Linked DNA regions of Homo sapiens. The protein of the gene in region 1 purifies or fractionates together with the protein of each later gene. This does not show direct contact. Each region holds a gene or a part of one and is shown on either strand. Other genes may lie near its edges.

Region 1 (7,777 bases):
AATAACCTGGCTTGGTGGTGGGCATCTGCAATCTCAGCTACTCGGGAGGCTGAGGCAGGAGAATCGCTTGAACCTGGGAGGTGGAGGTTGCAGTGAGCCAGAATCATGCCACTGCCTCCAGTCTGGGCAACCGAGCGAGACTTTGTCGAAAGAGAAAGGAAAAAAGAAAGAAAGGAAGAAAAGGAAGAAAAGGAAGAAAGGAAGAAAGGAAGGAAAGAAGAAAGAAAGGAAAGAAAGGAAGAAAGAAAGAAAGGAAAGAAAGAGAAAGAAAGGAAGGAAGGAAGGAGGAAAGGAAGAAAGGAAGGAGGAAAGGAAGAAGGAAAGGAAGAAAGAAAGGAAGGAAGGAAGAAAGAAAGGAAGGAAGAAAGGAAGAAAGGAAAGAAAGAAAGAAAGAAGGAAAGAAAGAAAGAAAAAAGAAACTAGCAGATTTGGAATTCAAATTCAAGAAGGCTGGGCCAGGAATGGTGGCTCACGCCTGTAATCCCAGCACTTTGGGAGGCCAAGACAGGCAGATTATTTGAGCCCAGGAGTTCAAGACCAGCCTGGTCAACATGTGAAACCCTGTCTGGACTAAAAATACAAAAATTAGCAGAGCATGGTGATGTGCACCTGTCTTCCCAACTACTCGGGAGGCTGAGGTAGGATAATTGCTTGAACCTGGGAGGCGGGGGTTGCAGTGAGCCGAGATCATGCCACTGCACTCCAGTCTGGGCAACAGAGCGAGACTTTGTCTCCAGAAAAAAAAGAATCCCTAAGCCTCAGTTTCCTCATCTGTAAAGTGGGGCTGCTGAGAAAAGTAAGTAGGTGAAATGCTTAGGGTAGTGACTGACACATAGCGAGTCTTGCTGCTGTTGTGTTAATTTCCTCTGACCCCAGAGCCCATGCACTGAACTTATGCATCCTAAAATAAGGCAGTTTGGGCACACCCTGCAGAAGGAAGCCTGTGAGAGGGTCTCCTGTCATAGCTACTCTGCCACAACCATCCCCCCAAATAAGGAGTCACAGCAAGGCGCCTACCTCCAGAGGGGTGAAGTCATGATTGACCAGGAACGCCAGAATGGCTGTGGGAACGACCAGGAACTCCACTCTGAACGTGTCATGGTTCCCATCGTAAGTAGCTTTGAACTTGCTATAAATCAACCAGACCGTGGTGAAGGAGCAGGCTATGTAGACCACCTGAGGAGGGGGATGATGAGAAGGGGCCTCAACTCACAGGCCTGTGCCCCAGTAGGCTCAGAGCCCGGAGTCCAGGCCCCTCCCTCAGACGCAGGAGTCCAGACCCCCAACCCCTCCTCCCTCAGACCCAGGAGTCCAAGCCCCCAGCCCCTCCTCCCTCAGACCCAGGAGTCCAGGCCCCCAACCCCTCCTCCCTCAGATCCAGGAGTCCAAGCCCCCAGCCCCTCCTCCCTCAGACCCAGGAGTCCAGGCCCCCAACCCCTCCTCCCTCAGACCCTGGAGTCCAGGCCCCCAGCCCCTCCTCCCTCAGACCCAGGAGTCCAGGGCCCCATTCCCTCCTCCCTCAGATCCAGGAGTCCAGGCCCAGCCCCTCCTCCCTCAGACCCAAGAGTCCAGGCCCAGCCCCTCCTCCCTCAGACCCAGGAGTCCAGGCCCCAGTCCCTTCCTCCCTCAGACCCAAAAGTCCAGGCCCCCGGCCCCTCCTCCCTCAGACCCAGGAGTCCAGACCCCCAACCCCTCCTCCCTCAGACCCAGGAGTCCAGGCCTCAGTCCCTTCTTCCCTCAGACCCAAGAGTCCAGGCCCCCGGCCCCTCCTCCCTCAGACCCAGGAGTCCAGGCCCCCAGCCCCTCCTCCCTCAGACCTAGGAGTCTGGGACCCACACCCGGCTCCTCTGCCTCAGTGGGGGCCAGAGAGGTGGGGTGGAGCCTCTACCTTCATACACGTGTTGTAGAGTGAGATGTAGTTGGTGAAGAGGTCCAGATATCGGGCAGTGAACACCACAGCAAACAGGACCTGGCTCTTCCCTGAAATTCCTGTGGTCCAGAGACAGAGAAAGAGAGAGAGAGAGAGACAGAGAGAGAGAGAGAGACAGACAGACAGACAGACAGACAGAAGGAGAGAGGAAGCTGGGGGTGGGCTGCATGGGCAATAAACTAAGGCAGGGCGCCCGGGACCAGCCTGGAGGCAGCTCTGGAGTGCAGCTGTCCCCGGAGGCCTCCCCAGCCCGCCCCGCCTGAGCAGGGCCCTTTCCCACGGACCACAGCCAGGGGGCAGCCCAGGCCCCCGAAGCTACTCCAGCCCGAGGCTCCGTCCCAGACTAGGCCTCATGGCTACCCCTGGCCCCTCAGGGTCCTCCCGCAGTCTGGACCTGAGGTGAGGCCTAGGGAGGACCTTCCCTGACCTCAGGCCCCGGATCCGGTCACCTCCCTCCCGTTCCCTTCCTGGCCGCCACGGTCCACGTCACCAACTCACAGCCACCTCCCCGCCTGCCATGGTTCCCTGTTCCCGGTCCATGAACCCTCGGGCTGCCCAGATTGGGGCTGGGGGTGGCTGAATTGGGGGCCTAAAGCCATTCACATGAAACTGTATGCACCCCCGCCAGTCTGGGGAAGGGAGCTGATCCCCTGGAGACCCAGAACCTAGAAGAGAGATCCCCAGCAAGCAGTGGGGGTGGAACCTGTGCCCCTAGTGCCCCCAAACCCTTCCTGAGTCCTGCGACGTCCCCCAACCCCCGCCCGCAATCTCTCTCCTTCGCCAGCCCTGGTGGGCCTCTCACCGGCGCACGAGCGGGACTTCCAGATTTTGAGCAGTAGCAAGATGATGGCGAGGAGGTGGGAGAGGTCTCCCAGGAATCGGAAGAGATTCATGGCTGGGGAACCCTGGCAGGGCTGAGCGGGAGGGAGGCAGGCTGGCGGGGGGGTGCCCCCCGAGGCTGCTGGTCTGAACGGGTAGCTGGGCTGGGGGGACGGAAGAGGGACCCTAGGTGCGCTCCGCTCCGGGGAGGGGACTTTGGGAGGGGGAGCAAAGGCTGGAGCTGGCGGCGGAGCTGGAGCCGGGAAGAGGGAGGAGAGCGAGAGGGGGAGGAGTCCGGGAGGAGAGGCTCCGCCCCCGAGGGCGGGGCCTGGATCCCCGGCGCCCCCTATCGCCCACCTCCTGCTTTGCCGTGGCGGCGCTAAACGCACCCCCAAAGCTGCCCCATAGGAACTTGGGAGGGTCGCAGGGTTCGGAAAGTGCCAAATCCAGCACCGGTTCGCCCAGGCAGTCTGTGTCTCTGGAAGAGACGCAGTCCAGTACACCAGCCTCAGCCCTTGCAGGGATGTAGAGACTGCCCTCTGAGCTTGAAAAATCCTGCAGGGACCCGGAGGCTCAGCTGCTAGCTTTTGCAGCTTTCAGGCACTCTAACTCCAATCCCCCAGAAGACAAGAAAGATACCCCACCTACTTCCTCCCCTAGACCCAGGACTCAAGGCCCCAGCCCGTTCGTCAAACCCAGAAGTCTGGGTCCCCAGCCCCTCCTCCCTCAGACCCAGGAGTCCAGACCCCCAGCCTCTCCTCCCTCAGACCCAGAAGTCCAGACCCCCAGCCCCTCCTCCCTCAGATCCAGGAGTCCAGGCCCAGCTCCTCCTCGCTCAGACCCAGGAGTCCAGGCCCCCAGCCTCCTCCCTCAGACCCAGGAGTCCAGGCCCCCAGCCTCCTCCCTCAGACCCAGGACTCCAGGCCCCCAGACCCTCCTCCCCCAGATCCAGGAGTCCAGGCCCCCAGCCCTTCCTCCCTCAGACCCAGGAGTCCAGACCCCCAGCACCTCCTCCCTCAGACCCAGGAGTCCAGATCCCCAGCCCCTCCTCCCTCAGACCCAGGGGTCCAGGGCCCCAGCCCCTCCTCCCTCAGACCCAGGGGTCCAGGGCCCCAGCCCCTCCTCCCTCAGACCCAGGGGTCCAGGGCCCCAGCCCCTCCTCCCTCAGACCCAGGAGTTCAGGGCCCCAGCCCTTTTCCCTCCTAGGACGCTGTTCCTTGGAACTTAGGGTCCCACCCCCACCATCTTATGGATCAAACATCCTAACCTTAAGAATCTAGATCTACAGTTTCTCCCTTTACGACCCACAGATTTAGGCCCTGATTCTCTTCTTTTTCAGGAATGTGCACCTCACCCTGTTCTCCCAGACCTTGAGGATGAAGGAAACAGGAGCCTCACCCAGGAGGCTCAAGGCCAAAACTCTGACCCAAACTACCTCAGGAGCCCCTGGCCCTGGCTTCCCCCCTGCTCCAGAGTTTCTGCCCTGCCCACACACACACACCCTCTTCCACCCTCAGAGGCCCCGGTGTCCTGCCCCACGCTCTACCCCAGAGCCCCACGGGTGGCTTTATAAAAGTGCCGGGCCCAGCCCTCTAGCAGGAGGGGAATGCTGGGCATCTGGGTGTGGGACCCCCGGGGAACAGCCTGTGGTCTGGACTCCTGCATCTATGAGGGGACAGACGTGGCTTCCCTTCCGGATGATGGGGTACCCACAGATGATGGAGGCCAGGGTCCCTCAATAAAAGAAGGGGTGCAGGCGTGTTGATTTCTTCAGAGGGCTGGAAGGACGGGGTGCCCAAGGGTGACATCCACGAGTCTTGGGTCCCTGAGGGTGGCTTGTACGGGGGAGAGTCGGGATGACTGAGTCCTTAAAAGAGACTCCGACTTGGAGGCGGTCCCCAAATTCCTGGGTCCCAGTAGAGAAGGGGACTCCTGGGTCTGAGGGAGGAGGGGCTGGGGGGTGGGACTCCTGGGACCAGGGTCGAGACCTGGTTTTCAGGCCTGGCCTTCTGGGGCAATAAAAGCCACAGCTTGGGTCTTAGTGTGGCGAACACTGAAGTCAGGGAAAGGCCTCCTGTTTCCAGAGCCTCAAGGCAGGGCGGGGGCAGAGGGCAGCAACCCCCAGCCCTGGAGTCTAGCTCTGAAGCTGGTGTCTCCATACCGGGTTCTGAGTCCCTGCCTGCCTGTCCCCAGCCTGACTTCTTCCTCCCTTTTTATTTTCAGCCCCTCACTCCCTTGTCCCAGGAGGAAGGCAGAGGCTGGTAGCTAGGGGTGGGGGGCGGCCCCCTCCCCAAGCCTGGCAGGAGAAGGGGTCCCCAGGGAGGCCAGGAGGGGGGGCTGTGGGTCTCCCGGCAGTGGCAGACGGGGACTGAATGTTAATCGCATCCCGAGTGAGTGTGTGTGTGCGAGAACACAGCGAGTGTGTGAGTCCCTCCCGCTCCAGCTCCTCCAAGCCGCGGCCGCCGCCGCCACCCTCGCCCGCAGCCTCCCGCAGCCTCCCTCGGCCACCGGTGCCTGCTGGGGGTGTTGCCTGGGTAGGTCGGCCCGGCCCCCAGGGGTCTCTCGAGCGTCTGCCATCTGCCCGGTGAGGATCTGTGTGTCCGGGTGTCTGGGGCTGGCTGGTGGAGGGGGGGTGTGTCTGTAAGCGCTGCGGCGGCGGAGGGAGGGAGGGGTCTGTCTGTCTGTACCGACCCTGAGCTGCCTGCCTGGGTGTCGTGGGGCTCCCGCTCCTTCCCCCCGGCCCCCCCAAACCCAGATGGATGGTGTGTACCTGGGTTCTGTGCCTCCTGCCTGCGTCCGGCCAGGCGTCTGGGCGTCCCCGGCTGCCTGTGTCCTCCTGTCTGTCCAAACAGCCCCTATCAGCAGTGGCAGCCTGGCCCCCATTAGACCCCCCACTCTGTGTGTGTGTGTCTGTGTGTGTGTCCCTCCTCAAGCTCTGGGGGTGTTGAGGGGGAATCCCAGGGAAGTGAGATCGTGCGTGTGTGCGTGAGTGTATGTGTGTTTCTGCCTGTGTTTGAGAGTGGGGGAGTCAAGGGGGGGTCTAGAGGTGGCCAAGCGAGGAAGGGGCAAGCAGTTCCCCAAGCAGGCAATCTCCCGCTCCTCACACGCACACACCAGCCACTAGCTTCAGAGGTGACCCAGACAGACAGATAGACACAGACGCTGGAAGGGGGGGTGGGGGGGCTGAGGGCACAAAGCGGGGGTGCGAGTGAGCCAGGGAGAGGCGGGACTGGACACATGGAAAGGGGGGAGGAGCCGGGGCTGAAGCGGCAGAGGGGGGCACCCCGGGTGGGCGGAGGGGGGATCCCCACGGGGTCGGGGCGGCAAGAGGACACCCCGACAGCCTCTGCAATGTCCGGGGCCCAACTTCCAGAGCAACATGTGTAGCCACGTCCTCGCCTAGTCCAGGTGGCCGCAACCTTGGGGGAGAGACAGGGCAGGACAGGACCAAGGAAGAGGAAGGAGAGACGGAGCCAGGGACAGACAGGAGGTCCGGGCTGCCGCTGCTGCCGCCACCACCACTGCCGCCGCCCCGGGGCCTGCCCCCCGACATCGGCTCTCTGAGCCCTCCTCGGAATCTTGGGGTCGCTGGACGCCGGGTTCCGGTCCTGGCCCCCCCGCCATCCCCCCAACAGAACAGGGTCATGAAAAGGTAAGGCGGGGACAGGGGATGCAGGGATGGTGGTGGGAATGTGGACCCCCAAATCTAGGACAGAGGAAGTTGGCAAGAAGCCTCGTGGAGGGAGGGGGTTTGAACGGTGGGCAGGGGTCTTGACCCCCACCTAGCTCCCCTGTCCCTCAGGGACTCTCCTCCACCCTCTCTCTCTCCCTCTCTGAGCCCCTTTTTCCTGAGTCCCTACACCTCAGACCTTTCACGCCCCCATTTCTCTGACACTTGGCTCCCTCTCCCCATCCCCACATACCTGATGCCCCATATCCCTGTGCCTCCATCTCTCTATCTCACCTTCTCCCTGTACCCCCCTCCCTGCATCAGTCCCCCCATCGCGAGCCGGTCCTCTCCCTCTCTCCTCTCGCTCTCCCCTCCCATGTCAGAGCTATGAGTCTGCTATTAATACCCCCGCCAAGGACCTTGAGGGCATCCAGGCCCCCAGCACCCCTCGCCCCAAGCTCCCACCCCTTCCTCAAGGTTCTGGAACACCCTTCCAGCCTCTTCCAAGCATCAGGATTCGGGTGGGGAGAGACCGATGTTGTGTGTGTGTGTTGGGAGGTGAGGGGGGAGGAAACGGGATGCCGTCTGCAGCACAACTCGAGGTTGTGGGGGGAGCTGTTGATCGAAGTGGCCGCTCCTCTCTTCTCTGTTGGATGCTGTGGGGGGCAATGAAGACAGGGACACCCTAGGAATTTCTGGCACCCTCCTCCTCCTCCCCGCTTGGGGACAGGCTGTGCTATGTACAGGATCTAAGTGGGGTGACTAGGGAGGCCAGAGCTCGGTGGGGGGGCACCCAGGATGTTGGGAAGGATAGGGTTTGAAACCAAAAGGGGATCCTTAAGGGAGGACAGGAGCCGGAACCCGGACTCCTGGGTCCTTGGGGGAAGAGGGGAGCTGGGGACCTGGACTCTTGGTTCCTGCAGGGAGAGGAGGCTGGGCACTGGAGTTCCAGAGTCTTGGGGCAGGAGGGGCCTGGCCTCCTGGGTCCTGGGAAAGAACAGGACCGAATGCCCAGACTCCCAAGGCCTGGGGGAGGAAGGGGCTGCCAGAAGGACTCCTGGGTCTTTACGGGAGGAGGTAGGGGATAGCGCTTCCGTCTGAGGAAGGCAGGCTGGGAGCTCAGTCTCCTGAGTCCCTGACAGGGCAGGAGATGAGTGTTGGGGACTTTAGCCCTATGCAGATGGAAGTGGAAACGGAGGCTCATGAGGAGGTAGAGATGGAGGCGGGGGGAGCGGGGGGTTGTCCAGAGGCTGGACTCTGTGATCCCTGAGGGCGTGGGTTCTGGGGGTTGGGCCTTCAGAGTCCTGGAGGACTGGGGATGCCCCTCCTCAGGCCCTGGAGTGGGGGAGGCTGCTCTC
Region 2 (7,023 bases), on another chromosome or scaffold:
TTTTATCAGTTTCCACCTCAAAATATGTTCCCATAAAAAATTTTGAAGCATTTGGGTACAAAGAGACTGGAAAGGTATTGGGGGAGTTGGGGGCCTCACACCAAGTCTTTACTGTGATGTCCCCTGGAGATGCTGATTCCCGTGCAGAGTGGGGTGTTAATCAGCAGCTGCAGGGGAGGGAGGAGGGAAGGGGCAGGTGGTTGTGTGTGCGCATCCATGTGAGGTGAGTGCTGTGTCTCTCATTTCATAGCGGTTGGATGATTTTGACCTGCCACACTAGTGTGCGCTCTCCATCCCTGCAGCAAGCATTTCACTTGCAGAAGATGCTGTGCCTTGGAATATTCCCTCCTCACCTGGGGCTATATGAAGTGCTTATGCATATGTACATTGTTTATTTTAGATTTTTTGCAATTCCTTTTAAATAAACCAGTGAGAAGGATCTGAGTTTATACTTGGCCATGTGAAATTGTCTGAGCGAAGGTTGTCTCTGCAGTGGGGTCTTTTTTAAAATGCATCACTCTGTAGATGTGACGGGGTGCTGACTTTGCGGTATTGGGATTCCAAATGCTGCATTAGCAACTTTTATGTCTTAGATCAGAGAGCCATAAATGGTGCTCTCCTGCCATTGGCATGGAGCCACTTTGTAGCCATAGCCATTAGCCGGCATGCCTCTTCCATTTGTGTCTCCTCCCAGGGGCCTGGCACTGGCTTGCTTGCATGATCTGTGTCTTCATGGCTTCATTAGCAGCTTTTGAGAGCGTGTGTGTGTGAGAGAATTCTGAGCCATCATCACTTAGATCCTGCCTATTAGGAAGCACAGAGGCCACCTCTGTTCCGCAGCACAGGGCTCATACGCATGTAAGAATTCTGACCCCACTTAGAAAGGGGTCTGACTGAGCCCCGGAGGGACGGCCGCCGGCGCCCTCGTAAACCAGCATACCTCTCCTTCAGATTGTGCGTGTTGTGCTCCCAAGGCTTCTGTGACTGAAAATGTTAGAAAGCCGTGGGACAAGGTTTTTTCATTGTTGTTATTTCCCAAAATGCATATGAAGTAGGTATTTTCCAAACTTGGATTATTTATGCACCGCTCTCAGGCCCTTTGCCATGTTCACGTACCAGCTTTGTTATTATTTATTTAACACTTTTCTTTTTTTTTTTTTTTTTGAGATGGACTCTCGCTCTGTCACCCAGGCTGGAGTGCAGTGGCGCGACGTCCGCTCACTGCCAGCTGCGTCCCCCCGGTTCACGCCATTCTCCTGCCTCAGCCTCCCAAGTAGCTGGGACTACAGGCGCCCGCCACCACGCCTGGCTAATTTTTTTGTATTTTTAGTAAAGACGGGGTTTCACCGTGTTTGCCAGGATGGTCTCTATCTCCTGACTTGTGATCCACCCGCCTCGGCCTCCCAAAGTGCTGGGATTACAGGGCGCAAGCCACCACACCTGGCCTATTTAACACTTTTCTTTAAATGGACTTGGCCAGGCGCAGTTGCTCACACCTGTAATCCCAGCACTTTGGGAGGCTGAGGCAGGTGGATCACCTGAGGTCAGGAGTTTGAGACCAGCCTGACCAATATGGTGAAATCCCGTCTCTACTAAAAATACAAAAATTAGCCAGGCATGGTGGTGTGCACCTGTAGTCCCAGCTACTTGGGAGGCTGAGACAGGAGAATCGCTTGAAACGAGGAGGCGGAGGTTGCATGGAGCCGAGATCATACCTCTGCACTCCAGCCTGGGTGACAGAGTGAAACTCCGTCTCAGAAAAAAAGAAAACAAAAAAAAAACTATTTTATTTATTTATTTATTTGAGTGGAATTTCACTCTCGTCTCCCAGGCTGGAGTGCAGTGGCACAATCTCAGCTCATCGCAACCTTTGCCTCCCAGGTTCAAGCAATTCTCCTGCCTCAGCCTCCCTGGTTCCTGGCATTACAGGTGCTTGCCACCACGTCCGGCTAATTTTTGTATTTTTAGTAGAGATGGGGTTTCACCATGTTGGCCAGGCTTGTCTTTAACTCCTGACCTCAGGTGATCCACCCATCTCAGCCTCCCAAAGTGTTGGGATTAGAGGTGTGAGCCACTGCCTTTGGCCAATAAACTACTTACATTGACTTTGAGTTCATTCACTTTTATCTTTGGTTTGTGTCATTTTTTTTTTTTTTTTTTTTTTTGAGACGGAGTCTCGCTCTGTCGCCCAGGCCGGACTGCGGACTGCAGTGGCGCAATCTCGGCTCACTGCAAGCTCCGCTTCCCGGGTTCACGCCATTCTCCTGCCTCAGCCTCCCGAGTAGCTGGGACTACAGGCGCCCGCCACCGCGCCCGGCTAATTTTTTGTATTTTTAGTAGAGACGGGGTTTCACCTTGTTAGCCAGGATGGTCTCGATCTCCTGACCTCATGATCCACCCGCCTCGGCCTCCCAAAGTGCTGGGATTACAGGCGTGAGCCACCGCGCCCGGCCTGGTTTGTGTCATTTTAAGCAGTGGATACCCATGAAGTCACAGGTTTGATGTGCGGGTCAGTTTTTTCTAATTCATATCAACATAAGTAGTAAACTTCTGGGTGTGGTGGTGTACACCTGGAGTCCCAGATACTCGGGGAGGCTGAGGTGGGAGTGCTTGAGCCCAGGAGGTGAAGGCTGCAGGGAGCCACGATCACCACTGCACTCCAGCCTGGGCGATAGAGTGAGAGCCTGTCTTTAAACAAAACAAAACAACAATTAAAATATAAATGTTTATCCATGTGCCATCTGGAATATAACTCCACGTGGGCAGGGAAACACTCTGTTAAAGTAGGACGTGCATGTGAGACAGCAGCAGCGGAACACAGACATCCTCACTGCTCTGCCTTTTTCTGCCTTGTACTCTCCTCAGATGCCGCCACGGCCCTTTGGGGAAATGCGTGCACTGCGTCCCTCTAGAGGTGAGAGTCTCTGCGGAGTAAGTTCTGGGCCAGTGTGGGGGGCTGCGGGTAGACAGCTGTCTTAAGTGCTTGCCCTGAGTCCACGCACTTGGCTGTAGTGAGTGGTTCAAAGAACTTACCTATTTATTGCCCTGGGCCTCATATTCCCCTAGTGCAAGCTGCACACAGGACGAGCCTTTATTTATGGGAGTGACCTTCTCGCTGGATTATGAATGGCTGAAGCATTTGTGTGGCTGTGATAAAGGGGCAGCATTTACAGCGGGCTCCCTGGACAATCCTTTTCCGATCTGACACAAAGCTGAGCCTGTCGGCCTCCGTGCTTATCATTGTTGATTTACTTTGCCTTGAATCTCACATCTCTTCTACTGGTTTGTCCTGGTGAGACTGAGAGTTACCGTAATAATGCCGACTGGAACTGTTAATGCTGGGTTTACAGCAGGAAGGCCAGCCCGATTTTCTTCATGAGGCATCTCTTGCCTCATCTTGTGGCATTTCTTTTTGCACAATTTTCCTGAAACTCATTTGACTTAGAGCGTTTTGTGTTTAATAGAGATTCATTTTAATCTTGAAAAGATAACTGGCACACAAAGAAAAACTTGCTTCTGGCTATGTGCAGTGACGCCTGTAGTCCCGACACTTTGGGAGGCCAGGGCCAGAGGATCATTTGAGCCTAGGAATTGTTCAGCCTGGGCAACTCTTTTTTTGTATACCCTGTCTCTACAAAAAATTTAAAAAATTAGCTGGGTGTGGTGGTTCACGCCTGTAGTCCCAGCTACTCAGGAAGCTGAGGCAAGAGAATCACTTGAGGTCGAGGCTGCAGTGAGCCATGATTGCACCACCATACTCCAACCTGGGCAACAGCATGAGACCCCATCTCTAAAACAGTTAAATTGGCCAGACTCAGTGGCTCACGCCTGTAAAGCTAACACTTTGGGAGGCCAAGGCGGGTGGATCATGAGGTCAGGAGTTTGAGACCAGCCTGGCCAATATGCTGAAACCCCGTCTCCACTAAAAATACAAAAATAAGCTGGGCGTGGTGGCGTGCACCTGTAGTCCTAGCTACTTGGGAGGCAGAGGCAGAAGAGTTGCTTGAACCCAGAGGTGGAGGTTGTAGTGAGCAGAGACTGTGCCACTGTGCCACTGCACTCCAGCCTGGGCGACAGAGTGAGACTCCGTCTCAAAACAAACAAACAAAAAACAATTAATTAAAAAAAGAAAAACTTGGTTCTGACTCAGAGTGGTAAGGGAGACCCTAGTACCTGCTTTCACTGTGGGCCTTGACTTGCCAAGGCCATGCTGCTGGCCTCCCCCTGTGCGTAGCAGAGGCTCAGCGCCTGGAGTGACCGGCACGTGTGAGACTGCACTCGCTTACTCTGTGTCTTGGCAGCCATTCGATGAGGACTATCTAAACCATCTCGAGCCTCCCGTGAAGCACATGTCCTTCCACGCCTACATCCGGAAGCTGACTGGAGGGGCTGACAAGTAAGCAACTTGCTGTAACCTGGTTGTGCGTAAATTCCTTTTTGTGTAGCTGGCAGTTGTTGCTTATAGCCAGTGAACGTGTGAATGAGAGAAGTAAAGATGAGAAGGGGTCACACGCCTTTGAAAGTTACCGTGGTTCTATATTTATTTATTTATTTTTTATGTACTCATATATGTTTTTAAGAGATGGGGTCTCACTATGTTGCCCAGGCTGGTCTAGAACTCCTTGGCTCAAGTGATCCTCCTGCCTTGGTTTCCCCAAAGTGCTGGATTACAGGTGTGAGCCACCTCGCCTGGCCAACCTGGTTCTAGAAGGGAGCTAGCAAGGCAGAGCGACTGTGCAGGCGCCTGGCTGCGTGGCCACAGTGCAGTATCAGACAGAGGCTGTCCCCACACACACCACCCCAGCAAGTTAGCATCTGTGATGGTGGCCTGTTGATTCTGTGGTCTGAGTTCATTCTCTGCTTTTCAGAAAAACAACTACCCTGTGAGAATCTCAGCTTCCCCACCTCAGTGCCTGGTAACCCTTTCCCCAGAGCCTGGCCTCTGAGTCAGCTTGGTTTTCAGCCACAGCAGGGGCTGCAGCCACTAATCCTCATGGTACCACAGTAGTTGCCCACAGGCTCAGCCAGGTGGGCAGAGGTGGTAACAGTGGCCAGAAAGGGGTGAACTGAGCATTTTGATTTCTTTTAAGCCATGGCAAGCCCTTGCCTGTATGACCTTCTCCTGTTGGCTCTCTGTACACCCTACCAGAAAGTAGCAGGCTTCAGCTATTATTTTATAATTCCTGTCAGTGCAACGAGGAGATGGTGGCTGAACTGAAGTCAGCAACATTTTGTGAAGGATGTCATATTCGCCTGATTGTAGCTTTTCTCTGACAACCTGCTGACATCCTAAAATGACTTTTTAAAAATGTTAGACCAGAAGAAAAAACCTGCTAGAAACCCACTGTTGCTTGTCAGTGGGGAAAGCTGTGGAACTCTCTGGACTAAGGAGTGGGTGCAGATTGATTGTAGTGAAAGAGACTTGGTCAGCCTTTCTCAGTCTAGGTCAAGGAACACAGTCTCTAGTGGGGGCGTGTTTGTGGCTGCTGTTAGCATGCAGATTCAGTGACGAGTCTTTGCTTCCTAGATGCTATGATACCAAAAATGGCTCACCACCAAAAATGATCAGTATGTGAGGTAATGCATATGTTAATTAGCTCAATTTAGCCGTTCCACAGTGTGGACATGTTTCAGAATATCATTTCGTACACTGTAAATATATCGTTTTTATTTGAAAAACAAAACCTCACGTCTACCTTAAAGATACAGATTTCTTTTTTTTTTTTTTTTGTCAGTTATATTTCAATAAAGCTGGAGAAAAAGAAAAAGTTCAGAGTAGGGTCCAGGATTTTCTCATTGACAGTCTTCAACAGTAGTTTTTATTTTAGCCTAAAGCAGAGTAAAGATGCCTTAATTATATATCCTAATCAGATTTTTCCCATGAATAAGAATTTTTTACAAATATCTAAGTACTGGGCTAATGTCAAAGTTTCTGACAATTTAATGAAACCTGTAGGAGCCTCATGCCCGCTCAGTGGCACAGGTGAGATCAGTAGATATTCTACAGTATTCTTGAAAGCTTTCTCGGATGTTAGTGATAGATGGTAAAAAACACCACAGTTTGGTAGGAAAGTAGTTGTGTGTTCCTGTATGGTTGAAGTATGTGGGACAGAAGCTGGGATTCGGAATGTGCTGGAACTGTAGGTAGAGCTTCCATTAGAATCATCCTTAGCCCATCTTCCCTGCTGCTGCCACGTGCTTAGCTCCTGAGACACTGTTCAGGAGGTATAAGATACTTAGCATGTCATTTCCAGCCTCTTGCTCAACTTTTCACCAATGTGATGTTTAAGTTGCTTCTCTTCTATGTAGGGGGAAGTTTGTTGCCCTGGAGAACATCAGCTGCAAGATTAAGTCAGGGTGCGAGGGGCACCTCCCGTGGCCGAATGGCATCTGTACTAAGTGCCAGCCGAGCGCCATCACGCTGAACAGACAGGTGAGATGTTCCCTGTCTGTCTAGATTTGTTTTCATGGCTGAGAAACGGATATTTCCAGAAGAGCCCCTTGGAGTGGAATGCTATTAGCACTATGCGTGGTGGATTTTCAGTACTTTTTGATGGACTGAATGATCCTTTTGTGGAAGTGGTACACTGAATATATCATTTTTAAGGCTTCTTGCTCTTGGAGATATGGAGTGCGCGCCCTCAGTTCTCTGTTTTGCTGGCTCATATGGAGGCAGAATGTTCCTGATGATTATTTAAAATCCTCAGTGGTTGTGAGGAAACTGGCTCTGAAGGTTGGTAAAGGGGCACCCCTTGGACCAGCTCTGAGCACCTGTCCAGGCTGGCTTAAGGAGAGAATGTGGCTCAGGAAGGAGGGAGCGTTCCGGCCTTTCTGGATGTTCTGCTGTCCTTGTCCCGCCTCTGAGTAGCCTGCCTCGCCTTCCTCCTGCCGCTGTGCCCTTAGAGAAAACGGCTCCTTAGAGAGAATTCCGTGGCCTCCTCGACTTTTTTGGAAACCTCCTATTCTCTATTCCTTTTTTCTTCTTGAAAACTACTTTATTTTGGCCGGGCAAGGTGGCTCACA
Region 3 (7,023 bases), on another chromosome or scaffold:
TTTCACTTTCTCGTTTTCCAAGCGTGCAGTATGCAGGTCTGCCATCGTTCTGTCTCGTACGTTGACAGCATCACTGAGTTCTTTAGCCAGAAAGACAACTTCTTGCCGAGTTGCCTGAACCTGTTCCTCTGCTTTACGAAGTTGCTCCTTTAAAAAACAAGTATCTTCCTGAAGAAAGCAGATAAATATATTTGTAATTCAACCACTCAAGTAAAAAACAGAAGCAGAAACAATTTTCGCACATATTTCAACAGGGCCAAAATTTTAGATATTGGTTTTTCTACTCATGACTTACAGAGTATATGCCTACAAAAAACTTAAGAAGTAACTTTGTTTTAGGTTCCCTCTATAACAACCCTATGTACTTGGTTTCACTGCTACTACTTTATACACAAGGAAGCTAAAGTACAGCGAGTCAGGCAACATACCCAGTGCTTAAGGACCTGCCCAAACTGAGGCTCAAACAAAAGATCCCATCCCCCAGAATCTCTTCAGCTAGAAATACTGACCCTCATTTTGTATGACTACCAGTAAAAATCATTCCGAAAGCTTCTTTGTAACACCAAAAATTTTGGTTAAAAGATGTTTCCTACTTTCTACCCCAAGAGACATCCAATATAATATAAATCTATTTCATATCATTATAAAAACACAGAACAGATTTAGGCCTTAGTTCTAAAAACAAAATATTGATATACAAATAGTAAAGACGAGGCATTGGGAAAATGAAAAGTAATTCATACTGCTTGACAAACCTAAAAGTATCTTTAAAAAGCTAAAATTGCCATGGTGAAATTATTTCCTTTAATATTAATGTTTAAACATTATAACATTTAAACATTATAAACACAATAAATTTAGTTTATTCAACTTCCTGTTTTTAATCTCTGTACTAAAAATAATGTAAAATCAGGAAAAAAATGCAACCCAATATTGGTTTCTAAACTGTTAGCCCCTTAGAAGGAAATGTAAATGATGATTTTATGCAGTGTTGGCATGGACAAAATCTTCGGAGGCATCACACTAATAGATCTACCTATAAAAAGATCGCCAACTTCTATATGTCAAAGGAGAAGAAAAAGAACTAGAAGAAAATTATATGTAATATATTCAAGAAAGGTATAATAATACTTGATATAAATAACTTTTCTAGTCAATAAGGAGAAACAAAACAAAAGTCAAAAGTCATGAACATACAAAATTTTCTAAAGAAATAAATGCGATTATGCAGTAAAAAAATTCAACTCACCAACAATCAAACAAATAAGTTAAAACAAATGCCATTCACCTTTCAAACTAACAAAGATCAAAAAAACAGTAACATTCCAATATTTGCATGGGTTTAGGGCAACTGGCACATTCACAAACAGGTGGGCTTATATAAACTGTAACTGGCATCTTTTCTCATCAGATATTTACAACATTCATCAGCACCTTAAAAATTCTCACAGCTTTTGATCTAGCAATTTTATTTCCATAAGTTTCCAAGAAAATTATCAAAGGGTATAGACATAGGTTTAGCTTTACAAGGATTCAATAAAATACTAAAATAATGAAAAATCATTAAGAACCTAAAATGTCTACCAACATGAGAATTTATGATAAACTATGATATACTACCTCTATATAATCAAAGTCTGTGCAGACATTACAAACAATACATATCTCATATACTCTTGGTGGGAATAAAAAAATCAATAGAACATTTTTTTGAAAGGTAATTTGAAAATAACTATCAAAATTTAAATACTCATTGACCCAGTAATTCCACTTGAAAGAACTTATTCTACGGATTATAAATGTGCCTACATATTGCTATAAGGATGTTTACTGCAGGATGCTTATAAAAGCTGAAGACTATAAACAATCAAAAACAATCAAAAAACATATACTACACAGTTGTTAAATGAAGAGAAGAAATACTAGGCAGTTGTTATGATGAATGAAAAAGATCCACATGTGTATCATAGTGCAAGATATCCATTTATAAATTTTTTTAAAAGGAAAAAATGTATAAATTCTAATTTGTGTTAAAATATAAATATACGTATATTCATAAATTCAATAATAACTTACTTATCTGAGAAGGGATGAGGATTACATTTTACTTTGTATCCTCATGTACTGTTTAAATTTTTTTATAACCATCACCTCAAACTACTTTCACAATCTTTTAAAAGCTTTAGCAACTAGTAGTCATTTTTCTCAGGTACTTCCATAACTACGCTTTTCCTCACAGAAGTCTTGCTTAAATAGGAAAAAGATGCTTAGAGAAATTTTTAGCATCTTATTAAATAACAAATAATCAAATACACTTCTCATGTTTGCACTGGCAATCTGTTACATTAAAAAGTAACAAGGATTAACCATTAATTCTAAATGTCATGCGCTTCTGACGTTTTAGGTATTACATTAACTATGTCTGAGTATTTTTAATAGCAAATTACTAAAAATAACATCATAAGAAATAATGAATCAATCAAGGTAAATCTATATAATGGAATATTATGTGGCCATTTTTTTCAAATGAGGAAGATCTCTACAAACTGATATGGAGTAACTAGCAACTTATTTTGTTCAGTGAGAAAAAGGTGCAAAATGGTATGTATAGTAGCGCTACCTTTTTTAAGAACGAAGAGGATAAAGAAGGATGTATGTACATGTACACATGCATATATAAGCTTATTTTTACAAAAAGAAACATAAGAATAAACTAGAAACTTATGAAAATGTTTATCTATGGGCATAGGTAAGAAAAGGGTTTAAAAAAACAAGGAAGAGATTGAGACCTCAGAGTAAAATTTTTCTATCATTTTGACTTCTGAACAAAGCAACTGTTTTACATATTCAAACAATAAAAATAAATCAAACAGAAGAATAAAAGCAAATATTAAAATTAAATACAAGCAAATGAAATTATATTACAAATTTATAACATAGGTATGCAAAAAAATAGTTCAAGTAACTTTTGAACATGGCGTTTCTATACATCCTTAGTGAAACATATTCTAAGAAAAAAGAGCTGTAAAAATACCTTAGCTTTATTTAGTACATTTATTGTTGGAAGTGGCATTGATGTAATAATTGTGAAAACACTGGTGTGTACGGCTGGATGGAAACACATGAGTAATAATGATGTTTGGGAAACAAGAGTTCTCACATTGCGAGAAGAGAGATATAAATATGGAATGGAGCAAAGGAAGGAAGAATCCTAAGGTACTAAATCTGAATTGGAGCTATCAATATAAATTAAAGATGCAAAATACCCACTGAATGTGCAAAGCAGCAGCCCCATAGTAGCAATAGGATCCAGTTCTTGGTTTCAAAATACCATTACCTACTAAAAAAAACAGAGTTTCTTGGAGAAATGGTAATATCAGGTCTGGGGGAACAACCTGAAGTTAGAACATACAGTTGTGCCATAAAGCAAGAAAGTATTCAAAGCATTATAGGAACATATCAGGACAAAAAAGCAGGCTTGAAAAGGTTCCCCTGGTTAAATTCAGAACAATTTGGGTATGAAAAAGAATAATGATGATTATGCATAATATGCAGCAAAAAATCAGTAAGTCCAAAGTTATATTTAAAAAAGAGGGAAGGGTGACAGGAATGTCCTCATGATAAAAGATTACCTACAAATAAATGTAGAAGGCATAATAGAATTTTTTAAATCACCATTTTTCTATCATTAATTATTACCAACATAATAGCTGATGCAGGTGAGGAGCATCAAAGGACAATAAAAACATTGAGGAAAGGCTGTTGGAGAACAGGGTGTTTATACAGATTGCTTAATAATCACAAACAGGGAAAGAAAAGAAAGGCACCTATATAGAGACAGGTAGGCATAACTTTAAACAAATTATTAAACCTAACATTATCAAGAACGAAACAAATTGACATTATATAACTTTTGATATGACTCCAACAGGATGGACAAAACATCATCTATGTCTTTTCTTGCAAAAATGTCTCACCTGAATCTAGTCATGAGAAACAACAGACAAATCCAGATTATAGAACATTTTCTCAGACTAGCCTGTCTTCTCCAAAAATATCAATGTCATAAAAAGTGTAGGGACACTATTCTAGACTGAAACCGACTCAAAATACAACAATCAAAATAATATGTAGTCTTTGACTAACTGTGAATCACAAAATTTTAAAGATTATATAAGAATACATTTGGGGCAATGTGATTGTGAACTAACTATGAGAATGACTGTTATTCAATCAGTGCTAAATTCTTAGGTGTAATAACGGTGTCATGGCTATGAAGAAGAATGCACTTGTTCATAAGGGAGACATGCTAAAGTATTTAGAGTAAATTATCGTAATACTTGCAACTCACATCGCTCAGAAAAAAAGGCATATAAATGAGGGAGATAAAACAAAGAATGGCAAAATATTTTAGGGTACATCAGTATTCATTGTTCTGTTCTTCCAACTGTTTTGTAAGTTTGAACTTTTTTAGAACAAAAGCTTGGGGGAATTAAAAATGAAAATCATATTGCATACATTTCATAGGTATGTTTTACAATCTTCAAATATATATAGCAAAAGTACTTACTTTACTTGAGGTTGTAAGCAGGAAAGTTCTTTGCAGATTTTCCTTTTCAGCCAAACATAACTGCAGCCTGCCAATCTCTTCTTTGAAATGAGTAATCACGCTTTCTTTGTTCCCATCTAAATTTTTTAAAGTCTGGACCTCTGACATAAGCTTGGTATTTTCTATTTCTGTATTCTTCAAATGTACCTGTAATGGTGTTTGAAAATGTCAAGAATATTCTAACTCCATGACCTAAGTTAGTCAAAGTTTAAAATACCATTATATTTCTAACCCAAAGACAACGAAAGGAAGGAAAGACATACTAGACTAGGATTTAGGAGACCCAGGTTCTGCCAAATGACTAGTTAAGCATGCAGGAGCAGAACACAGCTTTTCTAAGCTTTTTTATTTTCCAGAGAGATTATTCTAAGCCCTAACAACATCACCTGATCTCTAAAGTCTTTTCCTTTGATTTAATGGTTTCAGGTTCTCTTTAAAAATGCAAATAGATTTGGTTGTTCTTTTGGGGAAACAAATTATGTTATTTGGCATATTCAAATCTGGCACGACAAGACTCTGGAAAACTAGAAGGGGTGCATTCAAAAACAACATCTCAAACAATTCCATTTTCTGCAGGCGAAAAGTACGATATCATTTAGTTTCAATGTGCTGAAAAATGTATTTGTTGACTAACCCAACTATATTGATTTTCCCATGACTCTCGCTATTGCTGATTTGCTCCTAACACACATACAAATCAAATTCAATAACTGGAATTATAAATACAGACCTGTAGTGTACACTATCAAGTATATCCTGCTTTCGTTAAGAGTACTGAGGAGAAATGAATTAACTTACTTCTTGCACTTTACTCTTTAAATATACAGAATGCTGAAGGACTAATTCCTGTTCACAAGGATAGAATATTAACTCCTGATTCTCTGAAGACATCAGCAACCAACACCCTTGCAGCATCACTTTAAAACGCTACCTGATGTTCATAATCATCAGCTCATTAAATTGACTTAACAAGAAACGGACTTAACTCAGAATGTTCTTGAAATTCCTCATCTGGAATTGCCTTCAGGAAATGCTTATGAGCCACTTAAAAAAATAAGTCTCAATTTGCACCCACAGCATTACTGACAATTAAGCTAACTACCCTATATTTCAGGGTTGCTTAAAAAAATAAATAAATAAAAACTGCCAGGCACGGCGGCTCACGCCTGTAATCCCAGCACTTTGGGAGGCTGAGGCGGGTCAGGAGATCGAGACCATCCTGGCTAACATGGTGAAACCTCGTCTCTACTAAAAAAATACAAAAAATTAGCCGGACGTGGTCGCGGGCACCTGTAGTCCCAGGTCCTCGGGAGGCTGAGGCAGGAGAATGGCGTGAACCCGAGAGGCAGAGCTTGCAGTGGGCCGAGATCGCACCACTGCACTTCAGCCTGGGCGACAGAGCGAGACTCCATCTCAAAAAAAAAAAAAAAAATTCAAAACTTCAAGCGGTCAAGATTTGTTAGCAGTGAGGATATTTTTACAAAATGACATCTCTGAAGATATTCTAAAAGTCAAACTCTAAAATGGGATTATTACTAAATTAATGTTCTCCCCAATGTGTATATATATATATGTTCTTAAAAAGGAAAAATAGTTACATGAATTGTGATAAACAAGTATCTTAATTCCATTAAACCTCTTCAACTTATTACACACTACCTGTTAAGTATCTAAAACAGCAGCAAATTAATTCCCTGAAAACTAACTTTTAGGGGTGATATACAACATGACTGTGACTTCCTCCTTGCTCTCTCCTGGATCACTCACTCTGAGAGAAGCTAGCTGCCATGCTGTGAGGATATTCAAGCAGCCTATGAAAAGACCACTTCAAGAGGAGCTGAAGGTTCTCCTGCCAAAAGCCACTGGAGTAAGCCATCTTGAAAGCAAACCCTCCAGTCCCAATCAAGCCCTTAGCTGACTGCACCCCTTGCCAACATCCTGACTGCAACTACACAAGAGGCTAGAGCCAGAACCACTCAGCTAAGCTGCTCCTAAATTGCTGACCTACAGCCCCTAAGTTCTGGGGTCATTTCTTTTGAAGCAACAGGCAATAGATATGGTAAAAAATAAATTACCTTATAAAGTTCCTTTTCATCCTTCTCTGTCTTCAACTGACATTCAAGTTGTTCTCTTTCATGTTGTGCCTTCTTGAGTTTGTCCTTTAAACTAAGATAGGTATGATAAAGTAACATTATAATGTTTTAAAGTTTTAAAATTTTTATTGAATTTATTTTTTAAAAGCATGAGAAATACCTGTCTAATTCGGTTTCTTTTTCAATTGCTTTATGTGTTACTGACACAATATCTTCCTCAAGCTGATGGGCTTTGGATGTAGCATCACTGAACCTCTTCTTAAACTCTTCATTTTCCATTTTTAAGCTTTGTGTTACTTCAGTAAGACCCTGAGAAGTGAC

What was found. The genes of interacting proteins can lie anywhere in the genome.
Region 2: the proteins of KDELR1 (region 1) and NPLOC4 purify together in Homo sapiens (affinity purification with mass spectrometry; 2 studies listed by BioGRID and IntAct, with this or other methods). This does not show direct contact.
Region 3: the proteins of KDELR1 (region 1) and TAX1BP1 purify together in Homo sapiens (affinity purification with mass spectrometry; 2 studies listed by BioGRID and IntAct, with this or other methods). This does not show direct contact.

The regions. Positions count from the first base shown.
Region 1 is NC_000019.10:48,388,536-48,396,312, forward strand, and holds the start of KDELR1 (ER lumen protein-retaining receptor 1), read right to left. Parts: upstream 3,017-7,777; 5' UTR 2,824-3,016; coding exon 2,733-2,823; intron 1,990-2,732; coding exon 1,889-1,989; intron 1,177-1,888; coding exon 1,018-1,176; intron 1-1,017. UniProt on the Homo sapiens protein: Receptor for the C-terminal sequence motif K-D-E-L that is present on endoplasmic reticulum resident proteins and that mediates their recycling from the Golgi back to the endoplasmic reticulum.
Region 2 is NC_000017.11:81,606,101-81,613,123, reverse strand, and holds part of NPLOC4 (nuclear protein localization protein 4 homolog), read left to right. Parts: intron 1-2,865; coding exon 2,866-2,914; intron 2,915-4,301; coding exon 4,302-4,396; intron 4,397-6,309; coding exon 6,310-6,433; intron 6,434-7,023. UniProt on the Homo sapiens protein: The ternary complex containing UFD1, VCP and NPLOC4 binds ubiquitinated proteins and is necessary for the export of misfolded proteins from the ER to the cytoplasm, where they are degraded by the proteasome.
Region 3 is NC_000007.14:27,785,151-27,792,173, reverse strand, and holds part of TAX1BP1 (tax1-binding protein 1), read right to left. Parts: intron 7,012-7,023; coding exon 6,863-7,011; intron 6,776-6,862; coding exon 6,685-6,775; intron 4,757-6,684; coding exon 4,571-4,756; intron 169-4,570; coding exon 1-168.